Linked DNA regions of Homo sapiens. The protein of the gene in region 2 interacts with the protein of the main gene of each other region in a biochemical or structural test. Each region holds a gene or a part of one and is shown on either strand. Other genes may lie near its edges.

What was found.
Region 1: the proteins of ERG (region 2) and LRRK2 interact on a protein array, tested with the Homo sapiens proteins (one large-scale study listed by IntAct).
Region 3: the proteins of ERG (region 2) and PRPF40A form a complex in vitro, tested with the Homo sapiens proteins (one large-scale study listed by BioGRID).
Region 4: the proteins of ERG (region 2) and SF3B1 form a complex in vitro, tested with the Homo sapiens proteins (one large-scale study listed by BioGRID).

What each region holds. Positions count from the first base shown.
Region 1 is NC_000012.12:40,304,997-40,308,496, forward strand, and holds part of LRRK2 (leucine-rich repeat serine/threonine-protein kinase 2), read left to right. Parts: intron 1-788; coding exon 789-970; intron 971-3,470; coding exon 3,471-3,500. UniProt on the Homo sapiens protein: Serine/threonine-protein kinase which phosphorylates a broad range of proteins involved in multiple processes such as neuronal plasticity, innate immunity, autophagy, and vesicle trafficking.
Region 2 is NC_000021.9:38,386,978-38,390,477, reverse strand, and holds part of ERG (transcriptional regulator ERG), read left to right. Parts: intron 1-3,500. UniProt on the Homo sapiens protein: Transcriptional regulator. May participate in transcriptional regulation through the recruitment of SETDB1 histone methyltransferase and subsequent modification of local chromatin structure.
Region 3 is NC_000002.12:152,707,462-152,710,961, reverse strand, and holds part of PRPF40A (pre-mRNA-processing factor 40 homolog A), read left to right. Parts: intron 1-3,500.
Region 4 is NC_000002.12:197,428,529-197,432,028, reverse strand, and holds part of SF3B1 (splicing factor 3B subunit 1), read left to right. Parts: intron 1-3,500. UniProt on the Homo sapiens protein: Component of the 17S U2 SnRNP complex of the spliceosome, a large ribonucleoprotein complex that removes introns from transcribed pre-mRNAs.

The sequences.
Region 1 (3,500 bases), on a different chromosome or scaffold from region 2:
ACTGTATTACTTGTTTTTCAGCTTTCCTTGGTACATTCTTAAATTTCTGCATTCCGCCACCATGCTATCACCCTAATGGATCAACCTTTTTTGTTTTGCTCCATTCTCTCTGTTGTAAATCTGAAATTGATAATTTGTTTGTCTCAGAAAATATTATTTTTCAAGTTCTAGCGTATTGCCTACAAAAACCAAAAGAATTAAGTGTCTGACACTGTGAGGTTCAGCAAAACTGTGCATATATTTTGCTACCTGATTTTTTGCCAGCAAATGAGTGTTTTCTATTATAAATATAGTATATATTGCTTAAAAATTTGGAACAGAAAAGAAATTACTCCAATTAGGATGCCACCTAAAGTATAAGCATGTAGCTGTACTTTGAGAACACTAAATTGCATGCAGGTTTGTAGTGACTAGGTCTTCTTGCCTTTACTGAAGGAGCAGAATGAAGTCACAGATAATGGATAACCAAATCCATTTTGTGGTAAGAACTTCCTTACTTTCAATGTCTTGAAGAGATGAAGTATGTTACCAAAGGAGATTGGGTTTTTTAATATTACAGATGAGTGACATAGATTGTTTGGGAGTAAGTTTTTATATGTAAGTTTTTATGTTTTTAAACACATACTGACAACTTATGACAAACCTTTGGAAAGTTTTAAAACTCTGTTGAAAGGTTGTGCAAGCTGCTGATGGAATCTGTGAGCCTTTCTTGTTTCTTATCACGTTTTTTGGCAGAGCACATTTCTTCCTTCCCACCAACAGGTTTTGCCCTTTTTTTTCCCATTAAGATTCCTCCTGAGATTGGCTGTCTTGAAAATCTGACATCTCTGGATGTCAGTTACAACTTGGAACTAAGATCCTTTCCCAATGAAATGGGGAAATTAAGCAAAATATGGGATCTTCCTTTGGATGAACTGCATCTTAACTTTGATTTTAAACATATAGGATGTAAAGCCAAAGACATCATAAGGTTAGATAATTTTTTTCTATTTGGTTTTACTAAATTTATTTCAGATTTTCTACTCTCTGTGACTTTGATGGACATATATTGTTACTATTTAGGGAAAAATAAATAGTAATATTTGGCATTAATATGCTGTGTGTCATTTGCCTTTCATTTAATGAATGTGTTTCTGTGGTGCCACTGTAGAGATTTCTCATTCTTCTTAGCCAGACTAATGTTGAGAGCGGCTTCTCCTCCTTCTGTTTCTTTTCAGTGGAGTAGACTCTAAAAGAAAATAAGTATTGCTATTTGGTCTCTGGTTACCAATTACACAATCTAAAGAAATACAGCACAGTATAATAACTTCTCACACTGTATTTCATATAGCAACTAGTTAACATATGCCTCTTACATCTTAAAGCATTATAGCTACTGACATCATGTGAAATTACTAACTTCTATTTTGCCCATTAGGATGAGTAATCTACTCACCTTGATCAGTTTTGAAAGCACCAAAACTTCTCAAGTATCACTGTTTCTGGTCTTTACACTTTAAGCACTTTAAATATCTTTGGTAATGGATTTTATCCTCCTTTTTGTTCCCTTTCAGCACATCGGTCTTATTACTTTCTCATAAAATCCTTTGCTCCCTTTTCCACAGTTACTGTATTAACGTTGCAGACCTCAGCTCTGTCATCACCTCTCAACTTGACTGTAATATCCACCAAGGCAGAGACCATGGCTGTGTTCACTCACTATTCAAATCTTGGCACCCAACACAGTGCCTGGCATACAATTAATAGTTGTTTAATTACCAGTGATTTATACTTACTCATTCTCTTCTGCCTAAAATCTCTTAAATTTATATTTAACTTCATCTGTTTTTATGAGGAAGGATTTTGTTTTCTGAACTCCTGAGCTTGATTTCATTTTAAAGGAGTTTGTTATCTTTTGTGCTAATTGTGGCTACCCTTCATCCTACCCAATTATTTTTCTCTCTTGAAACTGGAAAAGATGGTCATATAAAAATTGGTTCAGTTCTTACTAAACATTTAGTAGAACTAGCTTTCAGTGTATTATACTGTATTATCTAACTAAATATTTTTAATATTTAATATTTAATTTAATATATAACTAAATATTTTTAAACATGTTTAACATTTTCAGAAAAGACAGAAAGACCTAGAGCAGATTAGAAATTGTAGGCATCATTTGCTTTTTGAAGAAAGACATTTTTTCAAATAGTGGTGCATTCTTAAGAAATAAATCAAGAAAGGTAATGTTGCTTTTTGGTCATATCATCAGGAATGTTGGTCAGATTCTTATTAGTTACAGGAATGAATTGATCACTACTCTGATGTAAAATTCACTTATGATTTAGTCTTTTTCTCTAATTTGAAACTGTGGCAACATTTTAACATATTTCAAAATATATCTTTCTCTATCCATTATATTTTTGATAACACTTTGACTCTACTATTAGTTTAAAGGTGGTTTTTTAGCTACCTAAACACTTCTATTTCATTCAGGTTTTACATTAAGATCATTAGGAATGAAAGCTAACATCTGCTGATAGTATAATAGTTTATATTTATTTATGATGTTATGTGATCTCACTATCCATATATACTATTATATGCATATGTGATATACATGAATATATAGCTATACATCATATATACCATATATGAATATATACACACACATATATAATGTAACTAATATGACCCTATTATCAAGCTTTAACAGTATACATATATCTCTACCTTGTTTCTATGTCATATGGACTTTGTGAAATTTTGAACTTTATAATTTATAGGGTTTTTCTTTTCTTTTCTTTTCTTTTTTTTTTTTTTTTTGAGACTGAGTTTCACTCTTGTCACCCAGGCTGGAGTGCAGTGGCCTGATCTTGGCTCACTGCAACCTCTGCCTCTTGGCTTCAGGCGATTCTCCTGCCTCAACCTCCCAAGTAGCTGGAATTACAGGCACCTGCCACTGTTCCCGGCTACTTTTTGGATTTTTAATAGAGACGGGGTTTCACTATATTGGCCAGGCTGGTCTCAAACTCCTGACCTCATGATCCGCCCACCTCGGCCTCCCAAAATGCAGGGATTACAGGTGCGAGCCACCGCACCTGGCGTATAATTTGTAGGGTTTTTCATACTATTTAAAGACATTAGAATATGTATACATGTATGTATATGTGTGTATATATAGAGGTATATATATATTGCATATCGTATTCTAATTAGTATTGCAAACATATTTTGGCCTTTTGATTATTTCTGGTGATAGTGTAACATGTTTTCTTTGGTGATTTTACCAAACATTATCAACTACCCTAAAATCTCTAGCAAAATATATGCATTAACAGTACTCTGAAAGACATGTACATTATTAGTTATATGAGATATGCACTCTTCTGGATACTATATTTTAGAATAGTGTGACATGTAAAAGAACTCACCTAAATCTCAAGTATACTTTTAAGCAGTTTATTATTTTATTTTTATCTTTCAAATACTAGGTTTCTTCAACAGCGATTAAAAAAGGCTGT
Region 2 (3,500 bases):
TATAACTTGATTACCTCATTTAGGATCTTATCTCCAAAAAAGGTCACATTCTTAGATACTGCGGGTTAAGATTTCAACATAGGGAATTGAGGGAACACAATTCAACCCATTATACAAGCAGATAAAATAACTAGTATTTTTTAAAAGAGAGCCTTGATACAACCACAAGACTTCAAATTCAGGCTCATCTTCGATGGTCTGTTTCTGAACTTCGATGCTAGAAGAAAGTGCAGATTCTTAATTAGCCCATTTGTAACCAGTGCATTGCCAAGGTTTGTCACCTGTCCTAGTGTTTCAGTGCCAACCACATAGTTTTATTTGTTTGTATTCAGATCAGAACCAGCTGTGCTGGCACCAGCTTCAGAAATTCATAGCCTATGCTGCATATTCCCAACTGCAAATTCAAATGCCAAGATGTTACAGGCATATTGCAAGCACAAGATGGAATGTGTATTTCCTAAACGTTGAGGCCAAAATAAGGTTCGAAATGGAATAATTAAGATTTAATCAGTGTACATCCCTGCAAGAGAATCTACACATTGAAAACACGAAATGTTATCATTATTGAACATCTGTATTTTTGAAGTTAAATTTTGGTTAATGTTAATGAATTCAATGAATTTTTTTTACACAGCTGAAAATCTAAAGAAAACTAGTTAGCCTGGGGCCTAGACTAGGTGCTCAATAATTATTTGTTGCATACATGAATGCCAAGGATAATGAGATATAGTCCTTTAGCTCAGGGTGCTTTTGGTCCGTGGAGAGATGGACACAGGTAGTTACAACATTGTCCCAAACACAGAGCCACAGGCCCTTTTTGCTCATGCTGGCTTTCATCTAGTAGCCCAGGCTCCTGAGGCTGTGGTCTCTTCTCAGCCTTCTGCTCAGCTTTTCATTTGCAACTCTGCCATATAACCATTCAAATAAAAATAATGACTATGTTTTGAGATGATTATTATCAGTCATGCTTCAGGAAGACTGATCTGGCAGCAATGTTCAGGATAGATTAGAAAAAAGAAAATGACGGAAGCTGAAACACTCTGGGAATGTTAATACAATCATGTGAAATAACAATCAAACAGCTCCCATCCCGCAGAATGCCCCCCATAGAATGTCTGTGGTCCCTTCTGTGTCTCATAACAGCCCTGGGAGGTTACTATCTCCATCCTACAGAAAAGGAATTAGAAGTCCAGAGAAGTTAAGTAACTTTTCCTGTGTCACACAGCCAATGATAAGGGAGGTCAGGTTAGAAACCTGACTCTGTCTGCAAAGTCTACTTTTGTTTTCTTGCCCTACTCTGCCACTGACTAAGTATGAAGGGAAGAGGAGGTCTTACAAAATGCGGACTGTGAGAATAGAAAGCAAGGATTTCCTTTCAGGGTCATAACTGCTTAGGTGCAGGCGATGAATCTGAGGTCAGGAAGGAAGAGGAGGAAAGAGTCAAGCTGCACCAAAGAAGACCAAACTGGCCTTTGCACTCACACATTGGCCAAATGAAACATATATGTCCATGACCACGTTGTCACAGCCCAAAGGTACTGCTTGGCTTGTTTGTAGAATAGGGCCTGAGTCACTTGCTCCTAAGCAAAGTGCCAGCTTTCACAAGGGAACACTGCATATGCCCTGGGCCCAGCAGCCCGGGGATGCCCTTTGTAGATAGAGGGACCTGAGCTCAGAGCAAGGAGACCGGAAACTCATCACAGGCCTGGGGAAGGAGGACTGTGCTTCATACCATTAAGACTGTTCTTAATGGGCCTGGAGAAAATGGCAACATCCCATCTTTGATTTGCAGGCAAGTGACTTTAAGATAAAGATTTATTTCATTTAGTTTCTGATGAATTTGACTTTCTCTCCATCTATCTTTAGGTTTGTGTCTGTTGTGCTCATGTGAACTTTTCCCCTGAAACCAGAATGTCTTTTATCTTTGTATTAATGACAATGCTTCTTCCTGTTTGATTCTATTTTTCTATTCTCTGATAAATAAATCTTTCATCACTTAAAAATTGCTGTCTTTGCTCTTCATACAATACAAATTCCTTTTCATCATTTTAAGTGGAAAGATTGCATCATATAGTATGAATGCACAGGATGATGTCAGCATCCCAACATCTCTATCCCAAATATTCACTTGATGTGTACTTTGGACATCACTTTTCCTGCTGAGAACAGTGTGTCCCTGCATTCTGATATCATGGATCGGTTATAAGCAACACAGCTCCTTTACATCCCATCAGAGCAGCTGAGAATCTATCTAACATGGTTCCTCTAATGAAAGAGCTTTGGTGGGTTATGTTCAGAGGCTTCCTTGATGCTAACTGGATACTCTTCAATGGTGCACATGAAAATACATCCTGCCTCTTGCAGAACGACAGACCAGGCTAGGGATGTTTTCCCATTTGTTAGGAGGTGGCAGTGTGCAGTCTTCCAGTGGGAGTCCCCCAGGGAGGGGACAACATGGAAAGGACCTGAGGAGGCTACAGAGGTGTGCATAAACCAGGCCTGAAAGCAAGTTTGCGCAGTGATTAAGCATGGCAGCCTAGAGTCTGGATTTCAACCCTTGCCAACGCTAAGCAAAATAAGTCAGTCTACCTCTCTAAGCTCCAATTTCGTCACTTCTCCAATGGACTAATCACATGATTCCTGTGGGGATTAAATAAACCAATACATGTAAAGCGTTTAGAATGGTGCATGGCACACAGTAAGCTTTCAGAGGATATCAGTCAGCCCAAGAATAGCACCGTTTCAAGCTTCTTCATGGTTCAATAGGCCAATTGAACAGTATTTCTCTTTCTTTAGGCATTTCCTGGCTATAGGAGAGGAGTGTTATCTTTCCTTAAACTCTGATTTTCAGCCCAAAGAAATTCTGACAAGACCATTCAAGTACTGAGTTCATCCTTACCATGATCTTGCAAGATAGTACTATTACCATCACCCCCACTTTACAGATGACGATACTGAGGCAGAGAGAGCTGCGAGAGTTGCCAAACGTCCCACAAAGGGCAGAGGCAGGATTCAGCTGAAGCAGTGGCAACTCCAAAGTTGGTGCTCCCTACCACCATGCTTTCCTGCCCCTCCAGTAAGTGGTGCCTGAGCCTCACTGAGCCTCGGGGCAGAGACTTCCATTCAGGACACACCTGCTGGACACACCTGCTGCCTTGCAGAGGGTCCAGGCCATGCACACGGGATCTTCTGCACCACCCCTGGCTTCTAGAGAAAGTGGCCCCAAACCACTGCCACATGGTACTGGTGGGGCCCCTCACGGCTGTATTTACTGCCCTTGTTCATCAGCTGACGGCTGCAGGGCTTTGCACCAGGATGCTGTTTCCACCAGACACAGCTGCTGACTCACTCTGCAGCTCTCTGCTTTGCTCTGTGGTTTGTAAACCGTTTAGTTTTTTTTTCCCCCTTTTTTGCTCAGTCTGTACCCCTTTGCTACCCTGTTTCTCTCCCTTTCTTTTAACAATATTAGGAGATTACTTTCCTCTGTAAAATTAAAGGAG
Region 3 (3,500 bases), on a different chromosome or scaffold from region 2:
TCAATGTGGTTAGATTTTTGACAAATGTTAATAGTGAGACTACAAATACGTTTATTTTCATTATCTTTAGATAGCAGTTCATTTAAATATGAGCTCATCTATTCACAAACTTAGTGTGGAAAGATCTAAGGAGGACCACATCAGTTGAGAAGAATGACCGGCATCCCCTGCTCCCCTTTTGAAATTCACAAGGCATAATATTTACTAAAGTGATGAGAAGTCTTGCAGAAGCCTTTTACAATTTTTACTTAGTATTTCTGTCTTATTTGACCATCTCCCCCATAAATCTCCCACATAAAGCATTTGTTTTGCTTTGTGTAGCACATTGTATGAAATTAGCATTTTGTGAGAAATGCTGAATTAGGGCCCTTTATTCTTTTAGTTTGCTCTTTAGGAGAAAAAGGCAACATCAAAATAAGTTAGTGTTAACACACATATGCATAAACGAAACAGCTTGTGTAGTGCAATGAATGTATTCATTAGATAGTGGATCAAAAGAGGAAACAAGTCAATAGATTAACCTTTGATTTTTAAATTAGGCTTGTTGAATATCATGATAAGACTAATAGTAGTATTAATAGATAGTAAAGATTTGAGGCTAGGCACGGTGGCTCATGCCTGTAATCTCAGCACTTTGGGAGCCCGAGGTGGATGGATCACTTCAGGTCAGAAGTTTGAGACCAGCCTAACCAACATGGTGAAACCCCATCTCTACTAAAAATACAAAAATTAGCGGGACATGGTGGCGCACACCTGTCATCTCAGCTACTTGGGAGGCTGAGGCAGGAGAATTGCTTGAACCTGGGAGGTGGAGGTCTCAGTGAGCTGAGATCGCGCTATTGCACTCCAGCCTAGGCAACAATAGCAAAACTGTCTCAAAAAAAAAAAAAAAGATTTGGTACATATGCTACACCATAGCAGTGTACTAGGGATTTTGGGGTTTGTTTGTTTGTTTGTTTTGAGACAGAGTGTCTGTCACCCAGGCTGGAGTGCAATGGTGCAATCTCCACTTACTGCAACCTCATCCTCCCAGGTTCTCCAAGTAGCTGGAATCACAGGTGCGTGCCACATGCCTAGGTAATTTTTGTATTTTTAGTAGAGTCAGGGTATCGCCATGTTGGCCAGGCTGGTCTCGAACTCCAAGGCGCAAGTGATTCTCCTGCCTTGGCCTCCTAAAGTGCTGGGATCACAGGCATGAGCCGCCTTGCCCAACCTGTTTTTAACCTAGAGAAATAGGTCCATGTTGTGAAGGTTTATAAGTAGGAATTAATAGATGACATTCCAAGTAGAAATTATCAGTCTCATTCTTATTTTTTTCCTTACCTTTATTTTTCTTTTATTCAGTACACATTTAAGTATCTTGGGTGTGGTACCTAGTGTACAGGTGATGTATGCCCTGCTCTCAAGGAGGTCATTCCTGAGATGCCATTTTGAACTCATTTTTGTCTTCTAACTGCTGATTTGGTTGTTATGGTATTTCCGTACATTTGGAAATCTAGTGGCTATGAATATTTTATACAGGTTGAGTATCTGTAATCTGGAAACCAGAAATGCTCCAAAATCTAAAACTTTGAGTGCCAACATGACACTCGAAATAAATGCTCATTGGAATGTTTCAGATTTTTGAATTAGGGATGCTCAACCAGTAGGTAAAAAGGCAAATATCTGCAAATCTGAAAAAATCCCAGTCTGGTGTCAAGCATTCTGTATAAAGGCCTCTCAACCTGTATTTGCCTTCTTTCGCTGTCTGGTCAAGTACTTGTACATTATGTATCACTTATTTTAAGCAAGTTAGTTGTACTTAGCAGTTATTAGAGATGTGATTGTTGGAAGTGAATGTTCAGTGTTGCAAAGTGAAAATAGCACTCAGGCAAAAGTTTTCTCAGCAAGGCAGTTTACTTCTGTAGAAGGGTGTGTCTTGCAGATGGAGCAATCGTGAGATGGACAAGGGAGGGGAAGAGGTTCTTATTCTTAACACAGCTGGTCCCCACTGTTGTGTCTTTCCCCTACTGGCTAGGGTTGGACCGCACAATCTAAAGTGACCCAGTTGACTAATGTTTGAAATTGAACCCAGCTGTCTAGGCTGGAAGGGAAAGGCTATCCATTATGACACAATGCATGTCTAGGAGAAGGAAGAGTTTATCTGAATAAGGTGGAGGAGAGCTGAGGAAGGTTTTGGTGAGAGCTGTTTTTATAAGTCTTTGCACTAAACTATGAGTACAGGGTATGATACAGCATCCTGTAAGAATGAGCACACCTATAATGGCTGTAAGAGAAGGATTGAGGCTATGATTCCTTTTCATTTACTGAACTACCTCTCTAGCCATGTTGAGAAAGGGTTATCGACTCCAGAATTTTTAGTTAGTTCATTGGATAAAGCGGTAAGTCTTTGTAAGACGCTTATTATGTTCCCAGTGGGGTCAGTGTTGTTTGGGATAAAGGTACAACAGTGAATTTTAATCATAACACAAACATCCCCTATTTTGGCTAATATATCTAGGGCCATTCTGTTTTCTCAGGCCATCTGGCTAGTGGGCCCCAATTGTTCTGTTACCCTTTGACAGCATCCGTGGTGTAATTATAAACCACTGCTGATTATAATAAATGTAATTTATCCAATCTACGTTTTTATTAGTTGTCACTCACAAAAATATTGACTCAAATCCTGCAGCTATTTGATCTCGAGTTTTAAATTTAAGAGCATTCACATCTTGATATCCTGTCTCAGTTGCCAAAGTTTGTTTTAGGTCTTTAACTTCTACAATAGCTACCTTGGTCTTTTCATTAGATGGAGGAGGAGCAATAGTTTTGTTGTGAGAGGTTTTGGAAGAAGGCTTAGGGGAAAGTGTAGGCAGTAGGGGATCAATGCAGCATATTTCAAAGGATCCAATAGGTTCTGTTCCTGAAACCTCAGCCCCCATGCCATAAAACTGGCTTAAAGAAGGGAACCGGCTTATAGAAGGGGAAGAACTTGGAGGGTTTGAGATAATAACCTGTATTGGACAGTACTGGTTTAGCTCACAGCTAGGGGAAGCTGTTTCTTTAGTAAAGTGAATGTATGGCTTTAGGAAATTACAGCTACTGGTTGGGGCAGTTTATCCGTGCTCTTTAGTGGTCTACAGAACGTTTACAACTACTGGTTGGGGCAGTCCATCTGTGCTCTTTATTGGTCTACAGAACATTGGACCAACTGCAGCATAAAAGCTCTGTCTTGGCGGGGTGTGGGGGGCAATACTCCCAGTTGACATTGGGGTCTTTATTGAAACCTTTCCAGACTAAATGATCCCGATTCACTAATATCCAGTCTGAGCAGAGCCAGGAAGGACAGAGGTACTTTTTTGGAGTGGAGAGCTGCTTCGACGTGTCAAGTCTCCACAGGGTATAACAAGGCAAGCATCAAATATAATAGTTTGAGGCGAAATTGACTCGGTTACATTAATAATGAGGTGATCAGCAATAGAGAGGAAAGAAGAAGGAGTAATAGAATAGATGAAAGAGAG
Region 4 (3,500 bases), on a different chromosome or scaffold from region 2:
TTCAGCCTCCTGAGTAGCTACAACTACAGGCGTGTGCTACCATGCCTGGCTAATTTTTACAATTTTTTTTTAGAGATGGGGTCTCGCTATGTTACCCAGGCTGATCTCGAACTCCTGGGCTCAAGCAGTCCTGCCTTGGCCTCCCACCGTGCTAGGATTACAGGTGTGAGCCACGATGCCTGGCCTTGAAATTTTTTTTAATAGAATTAATCATTTAGGAATCAATTTATCAGTATTGTTTGTAGTGTTCAGTAAAATGATTTATATTATAGTTAGTTGTCCTATTGGAGTTTTGTTTAATGAAAAAGCTGAGGGTTGGGATTCAGAATATACTTCCTGTTTTTCTGTGATGTCTTTTAGAAGCCTTGTATTTTGGAAATAGTTGTTCACCGGTTATATCTGGCTGAAGGAGAGTAGATATCACTTAGGGACCAGACTGAAAGGTGTAGGTGAGACATTAACATCTGAGGGCAGTATCTGTGTAACATGTAATGAGCAGTGATTAGAACACTGAAAATAATTCAGACGAAAAATGAAAAATAAAAATCAAGGAGGAAGAAGTGCTACAAGTTGGGTTTAGCAGGATCTAAGGCTTAGAAAGAAGAAAAGGGCTGGGCATGGTGTCTCACACCTATAATCCCAGCACTTTGGGAGGCTGAGGTGGGCAGATCACCCAAGGTTAGGAGTTCCAGACCAGCCTGGCCAACGTGGTGAAACCCCCTCTCTACTAAAAGTACAAAAAAATTAACCGGGCATGGTGGCGTGAGCCTGTGATCCCAGCTCCTCGGGAGGCTGTTGCAGGAGAATCGCTTGAACCCAGGAGGCGAAGGTTGCAGTGAGCTGAGATCACGCCACGCCACTGCACTCCAGCCTGGGCGACTGAGTGAAACTCTGTCTCAAAAAAAAAAAAAAAAAAAAAAAAAAGAAGAAAAGGCACAGGAGGGGAAATCAGAGGGACAGAATTGGTGGGGAGCAGTTAAATAGTTTTATCAGATGTGACCTTCTGCTATCAGTGATATGAATTGTTTTTCTCAAGAGCTTGATATGTAGGTCTGAGTTTTAAAATACAGGAGGCCAGGGGTTGCTCACGCATGTAATCCCAGCATTTTGGGAAGTCAAGACAGGAGGATTGCTTGAGACTGCAAACATACAGAAAAGTAGAGAGCGGCTGGCGCTATACTCCAGCCTGGGCAACAGAGCAGGACTCTGTCTCAGAAAAACAAAACAACAGGCCGGGCACAGTGTGTGAAGACAGGTTTTAATAACACTAGGGTAGGCTGGGCACGGTGGCTTACGCCTGTAATCCCAGCACTTTGGGAGGCTGATGTGGATGGATCACCAGAGGTCAGGAGTTTGAGACCAGCTTGATCAACATGGTGAAACCCTATCTCTACTAAAAATAAAAAAATTAGCTGGGTTTGGTGGTGCGTGCCTGTAATCCCACCTGCTTGGGAGCCTCAGGCAGGAGAATCTCTTGAACCAGGAGGTGGAGGTTGCAGTGAGCCGAGATCGTGCCACTGCACTTCAGTTTGGGCAACAGAGTGAGACTTTGTCTCAAAACAAAATAACAAAAAAAACTACCGTGAGTAGTAAAATGAACCCCTCATATACTCATCACCTAGCTTCAACAGTTACAAGCTTAGGCCAGCTTTGTTTAATTTGTACACTGGTCACTTCTACTCTTCCCATTATTTTGAAGCAGATCTTAGACATACCACTTTATCCATAAATATTTCAGTATGTATTTCTGTGTAGGGACTTAAAAAGATAATACCATGATTACACCTAAAATTAAAATAATAAAATATCTAGTCACTGTTCTGTTTTACCCATTCTTTTAAACTTTGTTTTTCAGTTTCAGTCAGGCTTCCAAGAAAACTGATAACATTTTGATTGGTTGGTTTCTCTTATATCTTTTTCATTTCACAGTACATTGTGATTTAATGATTTATCTCTTAAATCTTTTTCAGTTCATAGGTTCCTCCTGTCTCTTTCTTTTTCCTTGCACTTCATTTGTTGCAGAACCTTTGTCCTGTGGTTTCGCACAGTCTGGAGGAATTGGGGAAAGTGGCTGTCTAAACTGGTTCCCTCCTTCCCATTACTGCTGCAATCAAGATGTTAGGGGGCCTACAAGCAATGGAAGCACCCAGAAAATTATTGGCTCTAAGTATGAGCATAGTTCTGAAATCATACTTCAGGTTTAGATTGTGCTAGTCATGGGAAGGAAATTTTTTTTTTTTTTTTTGAGACAGAGTCTTGCTCTGTTGTCCAGGCTGGAGTGCAGTCGCACAATGTCGGCTCACTGCAAGCTCCGCCTCCCGGGTTCAAGCGATACTTCTGCCTCAGCCTCCCGAGTAGCTGGGACTACAGACGCGCGCCATCACACCCAGCTAATTTTTGTATTTTTAGTAGAGATGGGGTTTCACCACATTGGCCAGACTGGTCTCGAACTCCTGACCTCAGGTGATCCATCCACATCGGCCTCCCAAAGTGCTGGGATTACAGGCGTGAGCCACCGTGCCGGCCTGCCTTAGTGTTATTAAAACCTGTCTTGACACAAAAACCTCTAAACAAATGTTTACAGTAGCCTTACTTGTAATCACTGCAAACAGCTCGATGTACTTCAGCTAGAGAATGGATAAACACACTGTAGTACAATGGAATACTACCCAGTAATAAAAAGGCAGAAACTATTGATGTGCACAACAGTGTGGAAATTGGAATATTTAAGGGTTTAAATGGGTTAAAGAGTGCCAGCTTTTGGCAGTTTTGTGTGGCCAATAGGAAGTCCTAGTCTCTTCTTGCTCAGTCACTAGCAGACAGTATCCCTTTTTTCTTTGTCTTCACATCTGAATGTATTGAACTATGAGTCCAAACTGGGAAGGGATTAGGCTGGAACAGGATTTGTTCATTTTGGTCATAATTGAAGTTGGAAGAGATTATTAGCATAGACGTTTCTTTGCCTCAAGTCTTCATTGTTTTTGACCTCTGGTTACTCATTTTGGTATGTTCTCTCATTTTTTATTTTCATAGTTGCCAACCCCCGCCTTTTTTTTTTGAGATGGAGTTTCACTGTGTCGTCCGGGCTGGAGTGCAGTGGCGTGATCTTGGCTCACTGCAACCTCTGCCTCCCAGACTCAAGCGATTCTCTTGTTGCCCAGGCCAGAGTGCAGTGCTGTGATCTCGGCTCACTGCAACCTCCACCTCCCAGGTTCAAGCGATTCTCATGCCTCAGCCTTCCAAGTAGCTGGGATTACAGGCGTGCCACCACCATGTCTGGCTAATTTTTGTATTTTTAGTGAAGACAGGGTTTCACCATGTTGGCCAGGCCGGCTTTGAACTCCTGATCTCAAGTGATTCAACTGTCTTGACTTCCCAAAGTGCTGGGATTACAGGCGTGAGCCACCGCGCTCAGCCAGTTGCCAAGCAGTTTTATGCATTGATCATTTGTTGTCAGAAATGATCTATTTGCATATTTTTAGTCAGTTTATATTTAAGAA